2 separate regions of the Homo sapiens genome follow, and region 2 is linked to region 1. The links come from fine-mapping of genetic effects on gene expression. Tissue or cell type: whole blood. Region 1 holds a variant in brackets; the other region holds the start of a gene. All regions are shown on one strand. Distances are from middle to middle.

Region 1 (8,247 bases):
CTGCTGAGCAAAGGGGGAAAAGCTCTTTATAAAACCATCAGCTCTCATGAGAACTCACTCATTATCGCCAGCACAGCAGCATGGGGGTAACTGCCCCCATGATTCAATTACCTCCCACTGGGTCCCTCCCAGGACACGTGGGAATTATGAGAACTGCAATTCAAGATGAGATTTGGGTGGGGACACAGCTCAACCCCATCACCTTGGATTTGATTCCTAAGGCTGTTGTAACAAACTAGCCACACTTCATTGTATTGCGTTTGGCAGATATCACGGTCTTTGCAAATTGAAGCTTTGTGAGAACCTTGCACCAAGCAAGTCTATTGTTCCCATTGTTCCAACAGAATGTGTTCCCTTAGGGTCTGTGTGTAATTCCCACAATAGTTCAAACTTTATCATTATTATTATGTCTGACACGGTGATCTGTGATCAGTGATCTTTGATATTACTATTGTGCTTGTTTTGGGGAACCACAAACCATGCCCATATAAGATGGTAAACTTAATAAATGCGTGTGGGCCGGAGGCAGTGGCTCACAACTGTAATCCCAGCACTTTGGGAGGCCGAGGTGGGCAGATCACCTAAGGTCAGGAGTTCGAGACCAGTCTGACCAACATAGTGAAACCCCATCTCTACTAAAAATACAAAAATTAGCCAGGCATGGTGGAATGCGACTGTAATCCCAGTTACTTAGGCTGAGGCAGGAGAATCGCTTGAACCCAGGAGGCGGAGCTTGCAGTGAGCCGAGATTGCGCAACTGCACTCCACCCTGGGCGACAAAGCAAGACTCCGTTTCAAAAAAAAAAAAAAAAGGCTGAACAAACTGAAAAACCAGCGGCTCTTTTTCAGTTCATCAGAAAATTAGGTCACAGGGTAACCTGCTGCCCCCAAACTGGAGAGGCAGAAAGGTAGATACAGAGAATCATGATTTGCCAGAGCAGAAACCTTCCCTGGAATCAGCACCTGGGTGGGAAAACCTGAACTGCAACTGACGAATGTCTGGCAGCGTGGATGTGTGCTGCTGGTTAATGTTAGGTGGCAGCTGGACTGGAGTAAGGAATACCTAGAGAATGGTGAAACATGACTTCTGGGTGTGTCTGTGAGGGTGTTTCCAGAGGAGATTGGCGTGGGAGTCAGTGGACTGAGTGGGGAAGATCCGCTCTCAATGTGGGTGGCAGTATGCAATTGGTTCACGGCTTGAATAAAAACAAAAGAGGAGAAAATTTTCCTCTTTCTGTCTCTGTCTCTCCTGGAGCTGGAAGATTCTCCTTCTCCTGCCCTTTGGATATCAAAACTCTAGGCTCTTCAGCCTTGGACTGAGAATTATCCCAGTGGCGTCCCTGGTTCTGAGGCTTGCAGACTTGGACTGAGCCACGCTACTGGCACCTCTTGCAAATAGTCTCTCAGGGGACTTCTCAGCCTCCATTAATTGCGTGAGTCAATTTCCCTATAAATCCCCTCTCATGCACTTTGGGAGGCCGAGGCGGGTGGGTCACGAGGTCAGGAGATCGAGATCATCCTGGCTAACACGGTGAAACCCTGTCTCTACTAAAAATACAAAAAATTAGCTGGGTGTGATGGCGGGCACCTGTAGTCCCAGCTACTTAGGAGGCTGAGGCAGGAGAATGGTGTGAACCTGGGAGGCAGAGCTTGCAGTGAGCCGAGATCGCGCCACTGCGCTCCAGCCTGGGCAACAGAGCGAGATTCTGTCTCAAAAAAAAAAAAAAATGGCTGGGCAAGGTGGCTCACCAGCACGATCTCGGCTCACTGCAACCTCCACCTCCTGGGTTCAAGCAATTCTCCTGTCTCAGCCTCCTGAGTAGCTGGGAGATTACAGGCATGCGCCACCACACCCAGCTAATTTTTGTATTTTTAGTAGAGATGGGGTTTCACCATGTTGACCAGGCTGGTCTCAAACTCCTGACCTCAGGTGATCCACCCACCTCAGCCTCCCAAAGTGCTGGGATTACAGGCAGGAGCCACTGCACCCAGCTGAGAGTAACTTTTTTTTTTGTTGTTGAGACGGAGTCTCCCTCTGTTGCCCAGGCTGGAGTGCAGTGGCGCGATCTCAGCTCACTGCAGGTTCAGCCTCCTGGGTTCACGACATTCTCCTGCCTCAGCCTCCCGAGTAGCTGGGACTACAGGTGCCCACCACCACACCTGGCTAATTTCTGTATTTTTAGTAGAGACAGGGTTTCGCCGTGTTAGCCAGGATGGTCTCGATCTCCTGACCTCGTGATCCGCCTGCCTTGGCCTCCCAAAATGCTGGGATTACAGGCGTGAGTCACCGTGCCTGGCCAAGGGTAACTATTTTTAAGTATGCCAGAGCATTCCTCCAAAATACTCTTTTTCTTTCTTTTCTTTTCTTTGCTTTTTTTTTTTTTTTGAGATGGAGTCTTGTTCTGTCACCCAGGCTGGAGTGCAACGCACAATCTCAGCTCACTTTAGCCTCCAAGCAATTCCCTTGCCTCAGCCTCCCGAGTAGCTGGGATTACAGGTATGAGCCACCATGTCCAGCTAATTTTTGTGTTGTTAGTACAGACAGGATTTCACCGTGTTGGCCAGTCTGGTCTCAAACTCCTGACCTCAAGTGATCTGCCCACCTCAGCCTCCCGAAGTGCTGGAATTATAAGCGTGAGCCACCGGGCCTGGCCTAAAACATTCTTTTTCTTTTTTTGTTTTTTGAGATGGAATTTCACTTTTGTTGCCCAGGCTGGAGTGCAATGGTGCAGTGGCTCACTGCAACCTCCGACTCTCGGATTCAAGTGATTCTCCAGTCTCAGCCTTCCAAGTAGCTGGGATTACAGGTGCATGCCATCACGCCTGGCTAATTTTTGTAGTTTTAGTAGAGATGGGGTTTCATCATATTGGTCAGGCTGGTCTCAGACTCCTGACCTTAGGTGATCTGCCCGCCTTGGCCTCCCAAAGTGCTGTGATTACAGGTATGAGCCACCATGCCCGGGCTTTTTTTTTTTTTTTTTTTTATACATGGTCTCACTCTGTTGCCCAGGCTGGAGTGCAGTGGAGCAATTTTGGCTCATTGCAACCTCTGCCTCCTGAGCTCAAGCGATTCTCGTACCTCAGCCTCCTAAGTAGCTGGGACTACAGGTGCATGTGACTTCGCCCAGCTAATTTTTGTATTTTTGGTAGAGATGGGGTTTTGTCGTGTTGGCCAGGCTGGTCTCAAACTCCTGACCTCAGGTGACCCACCCACCTCAGCCTCCCAAAGTGCTGGGATTACAGACGTGAGCCACCGTGCCCAGCCTTGGCTGTTTGTGTATCTTTTTTGGAAACATTCAGATTTATGATTTGCAGATATTTCCTTCCATTCCATGGGCTGTCTTTTCATTTTCTTAATGGGTATCCTTGAAGCACAAAAGTTCTTAATTTTGATGAGGTCCAGTTTATTTTTTCTTTTGTTGTGTATGCTTTGGATGTTATGTCTAGAACCCCAAGGTCACAGAGATTTATTCCTATGTTTTCTTCTAGTTTTCTTGTTTTAGTTCATACATTTAGTTTTGTTTTTTGTTTGTTTGTTTGTTTTGAGACGGAGTCTCGCTGTGTCGCCCAGGCTGGAGTGCAGTGGCGTGATCTCTGCTCACTGCAAGCTCCGCCTCCCGGGTTCACGCCATTCTCCTGCCTCAGCCTCCAGAGCAGCTGGGACTGCAGGTGCCCACCACCACGCCCAGCTAATTTTTTGTATTTTTAGTAGAGACGGGGTTTCACTGTGTTAGCCAGGATGGTCTTGATCTCCTGACCTTATGATCCGCCTGCCCTGGCCTCCCAAAGTGCTGGGATTACAGGCGTGAGACACCGTCCCCAGCCCATACATTTAGTTATGTGATTCACTTTGAATTAATTTTTGTGTATGGGGCAGGGCACATGGCTCACGCATGTAATTTCAGCACTTTGGGAAGCTGAGTGAAGCGGTGGCCTGTCCCTCCACACCTGTGGGTATCTCATCAGGTGGGACGAGAGACTGAGAAAAGAAGTAAGACACAGAGATGAAGTATAGAGACAACAGTGGGCCCAGGAGACTGGCAAGCAGCATATCAAGGACCTGCACCAGCATCGGTTTCTGAGTTTCCTCACTTTTTATTGATTATTATTTTTATTATCTCAGCAAGAGGAATGCAGTAGGAGAGCAGGGTGATAATAAGGAGAAGGTCAGCAAAAAAACATGTGAGCAAAAGAATCTATGTCATAATTAAGTTCAAGGGGAGGTACTA[T/A]GCCTGCATGTGCACGTAGGCCGGATTTATGTTTCTCCCCGCCCAAACATCTCAGTGGAGTAAAGAATAACAAGGCAGCATTGCTGCCAACATGTCTCGCCTCCCGCCATAGGGCGGTTTTTCTCCTATCTCAGAATTGAACAAATGTATAATCAGGTTTTATACCGAGACATTCAGTTCCCAGGGGCAGGCAGGAGACAGTGGCCTTCCTCTATTTCAACTTCAAGAGGCTTTCCTCTTTTACTAATCTACCTCAGCACAGACCCTTTACGGGTGTTGGGCTGGGGGACAGTCAGGTCTTTCTCATCCCACAAGGCCATATTTCAGATTATCACATGGGGAGAAACCTTGGACAATACGTGGCTTTCCAAGGCAGAGGTCCGTGCGGCTTTCCGCAGTGCGTTGTGCCCCTGGTTTATTGAGATTAGAGAATGGCGATGACTTTTACCAAGCATACTGCTTGTAAACATTTTGTTAACAAGGCATATCCTGCACAGCCCTAGATCCCTTAAACCTTGATTCCAGACAACACATGTTTTTGTGAGCTCAAAGTTGGGGCAAAGTGGCTGGGGCAAAGTTACAAATTAACAACATCTCAGCAAAGCAATTGTTCAAGGTACAGGTCAAAATGGAATTTCTTATGTCTTCCCTTTCTACATAGACACAGTAACAGTCTGATCTCTCTTTCTTTGCCGTACATATCCCCCTTTTCTTTTTGACAAAACCGCCATAGTCATTATGGCCTGTTTTCGCTGGTTGCTGTCTCTCTGGAGCTGCTGGATACACCTGTAGACCAGCAACAGAGAACAGACATACAAGGATTAATACAAAATTTGCAATAGTGGAACTTCCAGTGGTTTTAACCCAAGTGATGGGGTTAAGATTTGTGAGGCCATCAGCAGCTTTCACCATTGCCTCAGTTTCTGGCACCAGATTGAACTGGGCTTTTGATGCCTCAAAAATTTGTTATTTTAATTTTAAAATATCTAAAGTAAGGTTATCTTCTCTTCCTTGTAGATGGCGTCTAACCATGTCCCAGTGATGTTCAGATTCATTATAGGCTCGAGGTGTAATACAAAAATCTGACATATTCCAGTCACACTGTAACTGAAAAAGATATTCTAAGCTCATGAGCCTATCTCTCATTCAAATGACAGTTTGTCTACGATCATTAATTTGGTTTGCCAATTTTTGGTCTATTTGAGTCTGAGAATTCCACAATTTTGAGGAGTTCTTTTGCCAATTATTTATATATTTTGTAGTTTGAACAGAGGAGTGTAAAGCAATTCCAGCAGCCGCAGCAGTAGCTGTGACTGCAATAAGACCCATAATCACTGCAATTAAAGTAAAAAATGAATCTTTTGGATCTAGTTAGAACTCCTTTTAATACTTCTGTTAAAATATGGATGGATGGGGAAGCCTCCCACGGTCGGTCCATGGACACAGGGATCCACACACCCTCTCTTGCCCTCACTGGCAGAATATGGTGCTGCCAATCAAAAGTTGAATCAATGCAAGTAAACAATCTACAATTTTCACAGGTTATAGTTTGGGAATCTGGTTTAATAACTATGTTTCCTACAACTAGCATATAAGAGGGTTTTACACAACTTTGCAAAGGAATTGTCGGATTGGAATTTAGGTTAATAGTATAATGTGGCTTATGATTTCTTGTTCCGATAACTTGATTTCCAGACCAAATTCTAATGTGGTGCGAGGCCACAGTAAGCTTTCATAATGCTGGATGTTCAGGAGCAGTAACAGGACTAACTAACTTTGGTTGAGGTGATGAAATCCCCTTTTCACCCCATTTCCATGGATAGGGTGATTCTAGCCTTCTATAAACCTGGTCTAGCCTTTCAGTTAAATCACTATCATAGGCCGGATTAGTGGGCCAGACAGATGGGGTCTGTGAACATGAGTGAGTCTGGCCCATACAACCATAATATAATTGGTTTTGAGGGGCCCAGTCTATAATAGTTCCAAATTTATTGTTTTGTAATACCACCACAGTATCAGCCACATATTTTTCCCAAACTAAGACTTCTGGGTCTTTTGATTCTTTGGGAATTTCCTTGAGGCAAGGTCCCCTTAGGCCTAAATTTTAATGATCTTTGATAAGAAGAGTCCTGTAAATTATTCATTTGTGACCCAAGTGACATTCCACTTACCATATGATAAGTAAATTTATTGGTGGCACTGACAGTAGATACTTCTACCAACCAATTTTGGGTTGTAGGCATTAAGCATCCTGGTGCTTTCCCCAGGCAAATAGGAGGATAATGATACCCAGTGGAAATGTTTATCATCATTCCTTCTTCTTCAGGTTGGGCAGGGCCGCGGTCATCTGTGGGTCCTGGTACCCATGCACTAATATTAACACATACTTCAATAGAATATTATCCATCCAAGTGACTGCCTGAATTAAGGGCGGGAAAGGCACATAGGCCCAGTAAGTATAATTAGCTGCAGCTGCTCCTGCAGACATAGTGAGACTTACCACCATTGATACAATCATTAAAGCTGCAAGCAGCATATTCTCTGGAGTTTGTGTTACCCTTGTGTACTTTAGGCTTTTTTCAGCTAACTGTGTCAGCTTCTTTAGCTGGGCCCAGGTCGGCGGCTTCGCTTTTTTGGTGGATGGCAACTTTTTCTGTAAGTTGTAGGTACCCAAACTGGAAGCTGATTTTCTCCTGGTGAAACACGAGCAAAACCTCTCCCCCACGTTATCACCTTCTCTATTTTTTATGTTTTATTTTTGTTGTCTTTTTACCAAATCAGTTTTTCCTCATGTGGGCTGTTCTTTTTACCAGTAAAATGTTGTTCTGCAGAAGTAGCGGTCTGATTTCTATAAATGTTAAAAAAATTTAAAGTATAGAGTGCTAGATTAAGTTGCATCTGGGGAGTGTTATATTCCTTACTGTCCTTTTCCTTTTTTTGTTTAACCAATTGAGCTTTGAGTGTTCTATTACTTCTTTCAATTATGGCCTGTCCTTGGGAATTATAAGGGATTTCTGTTGTGTGTGTAATTTTCCACTGATTTAAGAATTTTTGAAATGCTTTACTACAGTATCCTGGCCCATTATCTGTTTTAATTTTTTATGGAACTCCCATGACAGCAAAACAAGATAATAAATGTCTTTTAACATGGGAAGTATTTTCTCCTGTCTGGCAGGTTGCCCATATGAAATGTGAATAAGTATCAACTGTCACATGGACAAATGACAATTTTCCAAATGAAGGTACATGTGTGACATCCATTTGCCATAATGCATTGGGACATAAACCTCTGGGATTAACTCCTGCCTCCTGAGTGGGCACATGTAGGACTTGACACTGAGTACAATGTTGTACAACATTTTTTGCCTGTTTTCATATGATATCAAATTTATTTTTTAGTCCTGATGCATTTACATGAGTCAAGGCACGAAGTTTTTATGCTTTTATGAATGCAGATGATACTAGCAAGTCAGCTTGTTCATTTGCCTTAGTTAAAGGCCCTGGTAAATTAGTATGTGTTCGAATATGAGTAATATAAAATGGGAAATTTCTTTTTCTTACAGTTTGTTGTAACGAATTAAACAGCTGATTTAACTGATCATCCATACTATATTTGATTAGGGCTGTCTCAACATCCTTTGTAGCCTGTACTACATATGCAGAATCTGAAACAATGTTAATAGGCTGATTAAAACCTTGTAACACTGAAATGACAGCAACCAACTCTGCTCTTTGAGCTGAGTGATATTGAGTTTCAATGACTTGTTCTTTTGGCCCAGTTTAAGCCACTTTTCCATTGCTGGAACAATCAGTAAACGCCATCAGAGCATTTTCTAAAGGTTTATATCTGGTAATTTTAGGTAAAATCCAAGTAATCAATTTTAAGAACTGGAAGATTTTTGTTTTTGGGTAATGATTGTCAATAATTCCCACAAAATCAGCAAGACCAATCTGGCATGCAGCAGAATTGATAAAAGCTTGTCTAACCTGTTCCTTGTTTAAAGGAACAATGATTTTA
Region 2 (8,000 bases), 160 kb after region 1:
CATCAGATCAGGGCAGGGGCTAAGCTAAGCCTCCCCCATTAGATCAAGGCTAAGGTCCTGCCTCCGTCATCATATCAGGGCCACAGCCAAGTCTTCTTGTCAGACAAGGACTGAGGCCCAGTTCTGGACATCATGCTGGGAGTTGGGACTGGGGCTGGGCTAGGATCCCATTAGACCAGGGCAAGGCCTTCTCTGTCACACTAGAGACTACAGCCATGCCTTCCTCACCCAGCTGGGGTTTGGGGCTGTATTTTCCCCATCAGGCTGCAGGCTGGAATGGTGTCTCCTTATGAGCCCAATGGCTGAGGTGCATTTCCCTGTCAGACCAGGGGCCAGGGTGCTCCTGCCATCAGACTGTGGGGCCTTACCTTGGGGGTGCCACTGGCGCACGTGTGGGTCATGTTCTCAGCCCCCTGCTTCACCTTCAGCTCCACATGCAGCTGCCTCCGGAGAGCCTCTAGGTGCCGAGCCCTGAGCTGCTCTGCCCACGGCCGGGGTCCTGAGGCCACAGGCTCTGTGCACGGGGGTATCGAGCACAGGAGTCCCTCACCCAGAGCCGAGACCCCCACTGTGGCCTTTCCTCCTTCCCCTACTGATCTATAGGCAGGAAATGAGGTGGTCTCGCCACAGTGGCCAGGGCCAAGGCCAGGGGCCAGATGGGCCTAGAGCCTTCTGTCCTGAGGGGGTCTCAGCTCCTCACTCACCAGCTGGGCCAGGCCCAGGGCCGGGCAGCAGGATTCGGGCGTGCAGCTCCCGCAGCTCGCCATGCAGCTGCTCCAGGCGGCGGTTGGAGGACCGCAGCAGCTGCTGCACATGGCCCAAGTGGCGGCGGTCTGTGGCCACGCGCCGCAGGTTCTCCACCCCCTCCTTGATCTTCAGCTCTTTCTGGATGGCCCGGCGGATCACCTCCTTCTCATCCTCTGGGGGCCACTGGCTCGGCCCAGGCTGCAGAGCCGGTGGAAAGCAGAGGGTGGAGAACAGCCATGGGGTGCAGCGGCCACCAGCAGCCTTTGCTCACTGCAGATGGAGGCGAAGGAAGGGACGGCACCCAGGACTGACTCGCACAGGGTTTTGGAAGCCTCTCTCCCCTTAGAGCTCAGGCCTGAGCCAGATGGAAACTCCGAGGCCACTCATCTAGGCCAGGCTCCTGTCCTCCGCCCGTTAGAGAAGGATGTGGCGGGGGGGACAGTTCACACGGTAAATGGGTGCCAGGTTCTATTCTAAGTGCTTTGCATATATTACCACATCACTCCTCCCAGCCACCCCACCCGGTAGCGGTGGTCATTACCCCCATTTTCTTTTTTCTTTTTCTTTTTCTTTTTTTTTTTTTTGAGACAGTTTTGCTCTTGTTGCCCAGGCTGGAGTGCCATGGCACGATCTCGGTTCACCACAACCTCTGCCTCCCGGGTTCAAGCGATTCTCCTGCCCCAGCCTCCTGAGTAGCTGGGATTACAGGCACACGCCACTAAGCCCGGCTAATTTTGTATTTTTAGTAGGGACGGGGTTTCTCCATGTTCGTCAGGCTGGTCTTGAATCCTGACCTCAGGTGATCCACCTGCCTTGGCCTCCCAAAGTGCTGGGATTACAGGTGTGAGCCACCACGCCTGTACTATTACCCCTATTTTCTAGTGAGGAAACTGAGGCCCAGAGAGGTGAAGTAACTTGCCCACAGTCAAGACACAGAGGAGGGGCCACCATCTCTCGGGCCCCAGCTGTCCCTGGCAGCCCTGGGTAATCAGGCTGCTCTCTCTACATCTGGGACCCAAAGTAGAGTCCAGGAGCCACAAAAGCTACGCCGAATAGGGGTTCACACGAAGCCACATGAGAAGGCAGCCAGGGGCCTGGGAGCCAGGGCTTGTTCCCCTGATGTCCCAATGCCACAGGTAGCAAAGCAGAGGCACAGAGAGGAACTGGGGAGGTCTCCGGGTGCCCACTCCCTGCTCAGCTCCCGGGAGGAAGTAGAAGGCTCTCTCACGGCTTCACCCAGGTTGGAGCCAGGAACAGGAACACCTCCTTTCCAGCCGCCAGCATTTCAAACCAACCGGTGCCAAAGGTGACCTCAGGCCGGGTAACCCATGATGCCCCGCAACACGGGCTGTTGCAGGAACCCCATCTTACCTCTCTGTGTTCCATCTTCTCCTGAGCCCAGTGGAAGGGGCCGCAACCCCAGACTCAGGGACCCCCCCACCCCAGACCTCAGCGGGGCCTGCTGGCCCAGCTGTCAGAGGGCAAGGGCGAGGCTCAGGAAATCCTCTGACCGCCCTAGGCCACAGGGCCAGAGCCAAAGACCGGAGCAAACAAAGGTCCCATGGAGCTGGGGGCCCGGCCACCGGGGTCCTGAGTCACCCAGCTGCCGCTGCAGGGCGGAGCCCCGCAGGAAATCGGAAAATGTGTACAAGCTACGTCTGGAACAGGCGGAGGGACCTCCAGAGGAAGGGGGTGGGAGGGGGCAGACCGAGCCCCAGCCCTGAAGGCGGCCTAAACGACTGGCTTGGGCGCTCAAGGAGTCTACACGCACCCCGCAACACCCCCATGGTCCCGTCTGCCCTGGGTTGGAACTCCAACATGGACACACACACCACCTCCTTTCCGCTCTTTGCGGGGACCCACTCCTGTCCGCAAATGCCCCCCTCCCAACCACTCGCTCCGGAACAGGACACCACCTCTCCCTCCTCAGGAGCAGATAGACATGGCCTCGGTCCTCCGGGCCCACGCGCACCTACTGCCAGCTCTGGCAGGAAACCCAGCCCCCTCCGCATTCTAGAACCCGCTATGTACCCAAAGGTTCCCGCCCTGGGGCGGGGGAGGCCGCTCCCCTCTCATCTACGCTCCCCTCGTGCCTCCTGTGCTCCGGGAAGGACTCCTGCCACTGCCAAGCGCGCACAGACTGCGCCCCCCGCTGCGCGCACATTCTAACCCCCCCAGGCCCCTGTGCCCCGCCTTTCTATCCCGGCTAATTCCCGTCGGCCTTGGAGCCCCACCGAGGAGAACCGACTTAAGGACACTCTGGGGACCACCCTGGTGGCGCACACTGCGGACTCAGCCGTCCTCGCTCACGGGCTGGTTGGGGTTCAGTCTCCGGGTCAGCCGCGGACTGATTTGGAGACTGTGCAAGGTCCAGGAACCACCGAACCCGGAGATCAGGTCTGCTCTGCGAGGGCGTCGCGGGGCCGGGGCCAGGGCAGGGGCAGGGAAGGGGCGCGGGTGAGGGGAGGATCGGGGGAAGCGGCCGCGGTTCGGGGCTCCGGGGCGATGACAGAGGCTTTCTCGCACCCCCCGGGCCCGCGCGCCCCTCCCACGCCGTTCACCTGCCGCGGCGCCCCCTCCTCCATGGCGCCGCTCCGGCCGCTTGGGGCCCTTCTCTCAGCCACTCCGGTCCCGGAAGCCGCAGACCCTCCGCCAGGACTTTCAAACTTGAAACTTCCCGGGAAGCGGCGCCGGAGACGCGGGATCGGGCGCCCCCTCCCGAGACCCGCTGGCCCGCGGGACCAGCGCCGCCTCCCGTCCGCGCCGATCCAGCGCCCGGGACCCCACGCCCGAGGTCCCGCGCCCCAGCGCCTCCCTCGGATCCAAAATTCCGCGGGATTCTGGGCCCAGTACCCGGGCTTCGGCGCCTGCGGTTCCCGCTGGGCGTGACCGCGCCTCACCCCCGGTTTGGACGCTCAGGAGGCACATCGCCCGCGCCCAGGTCCTCTGGCCTTCCCCGCCGCGCGCCCGCGGGAGCCGGCCAGTTAGGGACAGGGATGGGGGAAACAGCGCCCCCTGAAGGTTGCCGGGTCGCCCAGCCGGGTGCAGCCGGTGGAGCTGGCCGCCTCCTCTAACTTTGAGCCCCTCTACAACCTGGCTCCCGCCTCTAACGCGCTGGGCCTCCTCGACCAAGCCCCTCAAGTCTCTCTTTGTCTCGCACGTTGTTGGTGTAATGTGGGCTAATCCAAAATTGTCTCTCTCCTCGGAGTGGTTGGCCCAGACTAGATATTAGTCACTACAAGAATGTATACTAGGCCAGGTGCGGTGGCTCACGCCTGTAATCCCAGCAGTTTGGGAGGCAGAGGTGGACGGATCACGAGGTCAGGAGTTCGAGACCAGCCTGGCCAACATGGTGAAACCCCCGTCTCTACTAAAAATACAAAAATTAGCCGGTCGTGGTGGCGGGCGCCTGTAATCCCAGCTACTCAGGAGGCTGAGGTGGGAGAATCACTTGTACCCAGTAGGCGGAGGTTGCAGTGAGCCGAGATCCTGCCACTGCCCTCCAACCTGGGTGACAGAGCGAGACTCCATCTCAAAAAAAAAAAAAAAAAAAAAAAAAGAACGTATACTTGTGGAAAAGTAAATCCTCACCCAAAATTATGATAAATTACAAATTACAGATGAATGAACCAGACCTCTCTCCGGCCCATCTCTTACTCAGACTGAGCTTGCTGGTTCAGCCCGTGCCACTTTTTAGGGCTTTACCCTAAAAAGCCCATCCATCCACACGGGAGAAAAGCCATTTACACCTGGTGAAATAGCCGCCACTATTTCAGCCCAAGGGAGGTGTGCTGGTCACTGCCTAGTCTATGGCGGGCCATTCAGCCCGTCCTGGCATCCTGCGTTTACAGGAGGTTGTGTCAGCACTTCGTGGAGGAGCGTCCTCCAGGAGGTGGGAAGGTGATGAAGGGTCAAATACCGACAGTGACTTGGAACAGACAGGCTCTGGTGCTCTTACTGAATGAAGGAAGCCACATGTTGTGCTTTGCACTAATCACTTCCTTCATAATGGACTGGAAAAAAGTGAAATTGGTGAGCCATGGACAACACTGGGTTGTCCTGCTATGGGAAATCACCCAAGTGGCATTGACATATAAGCAAAGGCAACTTGGCTCTGTGAAACATGCCCAGATTTCATAATCAGAGGCGAAATGTGACATTTACACATTAGAGTTGTTGAGGTCTAGACATTAGCAGAAGCACCTGGCACATAGTAGGTTCTTTGACATGGGGGTTGGCTGGGCATGGTGGCTCATGCCTGTAATCCCAGCACTTTGGGAGGCTGAGGAGGGCAGATCACTTAAGGTCAGGAGTTCAAGACCAGCCTGGCCAACATGGTGAAATCCCGTCTCTGCTAAAAAAAAATTAAAAAGGCAGCTGGGCGCGGTGGCTCACGCCTGTAATCCTAGCACTTTGGGAGGCCGAGGCAGGCGGATCACAAGGTCAGGAGTTCGAGACCAGCCTGGCCAACATGGTGAAACCCCGTCTCTACTAAAACTACAAAAAAAAAATATTAGCTGGGCATGGTGGTGGGTGCCTGTAATCCCAGCTACTAGGGAGGCTGAGGCTGGAGAATCACTTGAACCTGGGAAGTGGAGGTTGCAGTAAGCCAATCTCGCCACTACACTCCAGCCTAGATGACAAGAGCAAAACTGCATCTCAAAAAAATACATAAAATAAAAAATTAGAAAAACTAGCTGGGCGTGGTAGCGCACGCCTGTAGTCCCAGCTACTCGGGAGGCTGAGGCAGGCAAATCACCTGAATCTGGGAGGCAGAGGTTGCAGCGAGCTAAGATCACGCCACTACACTCCAGCCTGGGCAACAGAGCAAGATTCTGTCTCAAGAAAAATAAATAAATAAAAATAAAATAAAATGGAGGTTAAATGAACGTTATTATCCATCATTTAGAAGCAAAAAGGCTGACCAAGCCCAGTGGCTCATGCCTGTAATCCTAGAACTCTGGGAGGCTGATGAGGCAGGAGGATTGCTTGAGGCCTAAGAGTTCAAGACCAACCTGGCCAACATAGTGAGACACCATCTCTTAAAAAAGTAAAATAAAGAAGTAAAAAAGTCCTCAGCTTCTCACTGCAGCTCATCAAAAACCCAGGAATCAAACTAACAAGCCTTCCCCACCTTTTAGGAATTCTCCAGTGGTGCAATCAGTCCAGCCAGCTAATTAACACTTTAAAATGTGTATTTGCCTTGATGGCTAAATGTTACTTCTGGAAGCCAAGAGTAATCTGAGATAACTCTCCATAGGAGGGTGCTCACATCTCAACTCCCGGCTCATTTATCCACTCACTGCAGGCAGGAAGCTGAATTCGATGGTTTTCCAAGTTTGGTTGGAAAGTGGCTTTGTTTTTTGTTTTTTTGAGAGAGTCTTGCTCTGTCACCCAGGCTGGAGTGCAGTGGCTCAATTTTGGCTCACTGCAACCTCCACCTCCCGGGTCCAAGTGATTCTCATGCCTCAGCCTCCTGAGTAGCTGGGACTACAGGCACATGCCACCACACCTGGCTAATTTTTTTTTTTTTTTTTTTTTCTTTGAGACGGAGTCTCGCACTTTCGCCCAGGCTAGAGTGTAGTGGCTGATCTCGGCTCACTGCAAGCTCCGCCTCCAGGGTTCACGCCATTCTCCTGCCTCAGCCTCCCGAGTAGCTGGGACTACAGGCGCCCACCACCACGCCCGGCTAATTTTTGTATTTTTAGTAGAGACGGGGTTTCACTGTGTTAGCCAGGATGGTCTCGATCTTCTGACCTTGTGATCTGCTCGCCTCGGCCTCTCAAAGTGCTGGGATTACAGGCGGGAGCCACCGCGCTCGGCACACCTGGCTAATTTTTTATATTTTTAGTAGAGATGGGGTTTCACCATGTTGGCCAGGCCAGTCTCGAACTCCTGACCTCACGTGATGCACCTGCCTCAGCCTACCAAAGTGCTGGGATTACAGGTGTGGCTGCCGCGCCCGACCTGGGGAGTGTTTTTCACCACCTTACACAGGGAAGCCAAGTCCTGGACTGCTGGATGAGTCTGACCAGGTAGTTGCACCTTACTTCTGATAGTGATAACACTTCATAAGACTGGAATTCTTAGGAAATTCGTGTTCAGCATTTAGTGGACCGTGAATAGTGCAAACCAACTCTCTAGCCAGTTGGCCTTTAAAAGACTATAACTCACTGGGCGCGGCGGCTCGCCTGTAATCCCAACACTTTGAGAGGCCGAGGCGGGCGGATCACGTAAGGTCGGGAGTTCAAGACCAGCCTGACCAACATGGACAAAGCCCGTCTCTACTAAAAATACAAAATTAGCCGGGGTGGTGGCGCATGCCTGTAATCCCAGCTACTCAGGAGGCTGAGGCAGGAGAATCGCTTGAAACCGGGAGGTGGAGATTGAGGTGAGCTGAGATCGCGCCATTGCACTACAGCCTGGGTAAAAAGGGCAGAACTCCATCTCAAAAAAAAAAAAAAAAAAAAGACTATAACTCAACTGAAAGGAACCTAAAACTTGTCAACAGGCTGCATGAGGAAACATTTTCCCCCTTCCATGAATACAATTTTTTCCTTCTTGGTGTTGCAACCAATTTTTGTTTTTTCTGAGACGCCATCGCACTCTGTCGCCCAGGCTGGAGTGCAGTGGCACGATCTCAGTTCACTGCAACCTCCGCCTCCTGGGTTCAAACAATTCTCCTGCCTCAGTCTCCCAAGTAGCTGGGATTACAGGCGCCCACCACCATGCCTGGCTAATTTTTGTATTTTTAGTAGAGATGGGGTTTCCCCATGTTGGCCAGGCTGGTCTCGAACTCCTGACCTTGTGAACACCCACTCAGCCTCCCAAAGTGCTGGGATTACAGGCGTGAGCCACCGCGCCTGGCCCTACAACCAGTCCATTTTTATTTCGGTTTGTCTCTGGGTAGAATCTGAGCACACAATGTCACCAACTACAGTTGGTCTATACCCTCCACTTTAAAAGTCCTTGCTATTCTGCAGCCCTTTGCCTCAGGCCTATTAAAAAGTAAACTTGTGCTGGGCGCGGTGGCTCACGCCTGTAATCCCAGCACTTTGGGAGGCCAAGATGGGTGGATCATGAGGTCAGGAGATCAAGACCATCCTGGTTAACAAGGTGAAACCCCGTCTCTACTAAAAATACAAAAAATTAGCCGAGTGTGGTGGCCAGTGCATGTCGTCCCAGCTACTCGGGAGGCTGAGGCAGGAGAATGGTGTGAACCCGGGAGGTGGAGCTTGCAGTGAGCAGAGATC

Evidence for each region. PIP is the estimated chance that this variant, and not a neighbour inherited with it, causes the effect.
Region 2: it holds the start of PKN3, and the variant in region 1 is fine-mapped to the expression of PKN3 in whole blood (INTERVAL, PIP above 0.99).

The regions. Positions count from the first base shown.
Region 1 is chr9:128,853,133-128,861,379 of GRCh38, reverse strand. The region is part of intron 1 of KYAT1-SPOUT1 (KYAT1-SPOUT1 readthrough); the gene reads left to right. All of the region lies in intron 1 of KYAT1 (kynurenine aminotransferase 1), which reads left to right. Among named protein-coding and RNA genes, the nearest start is that of KYAT1, 25 kb to the left of the region's middle. The variant T/A (reference allele first, on the strand shown) is at 4,230.
Region 2 is chr9:128,698,248-128,706,247 of GRCh38, reverse strand. PKN3 (protein kinase N3) reads right to left here and starts at 3,745. Exons shown (of 22, transcript NM_013355.5): 1 at 3,309-3,745; 2 at 705-945; 3 at 369-514. The coding sequence starts at 3,332. RefSeq lists an enhancer at 2,929-3,468 and a silencer at 3,283-3,852.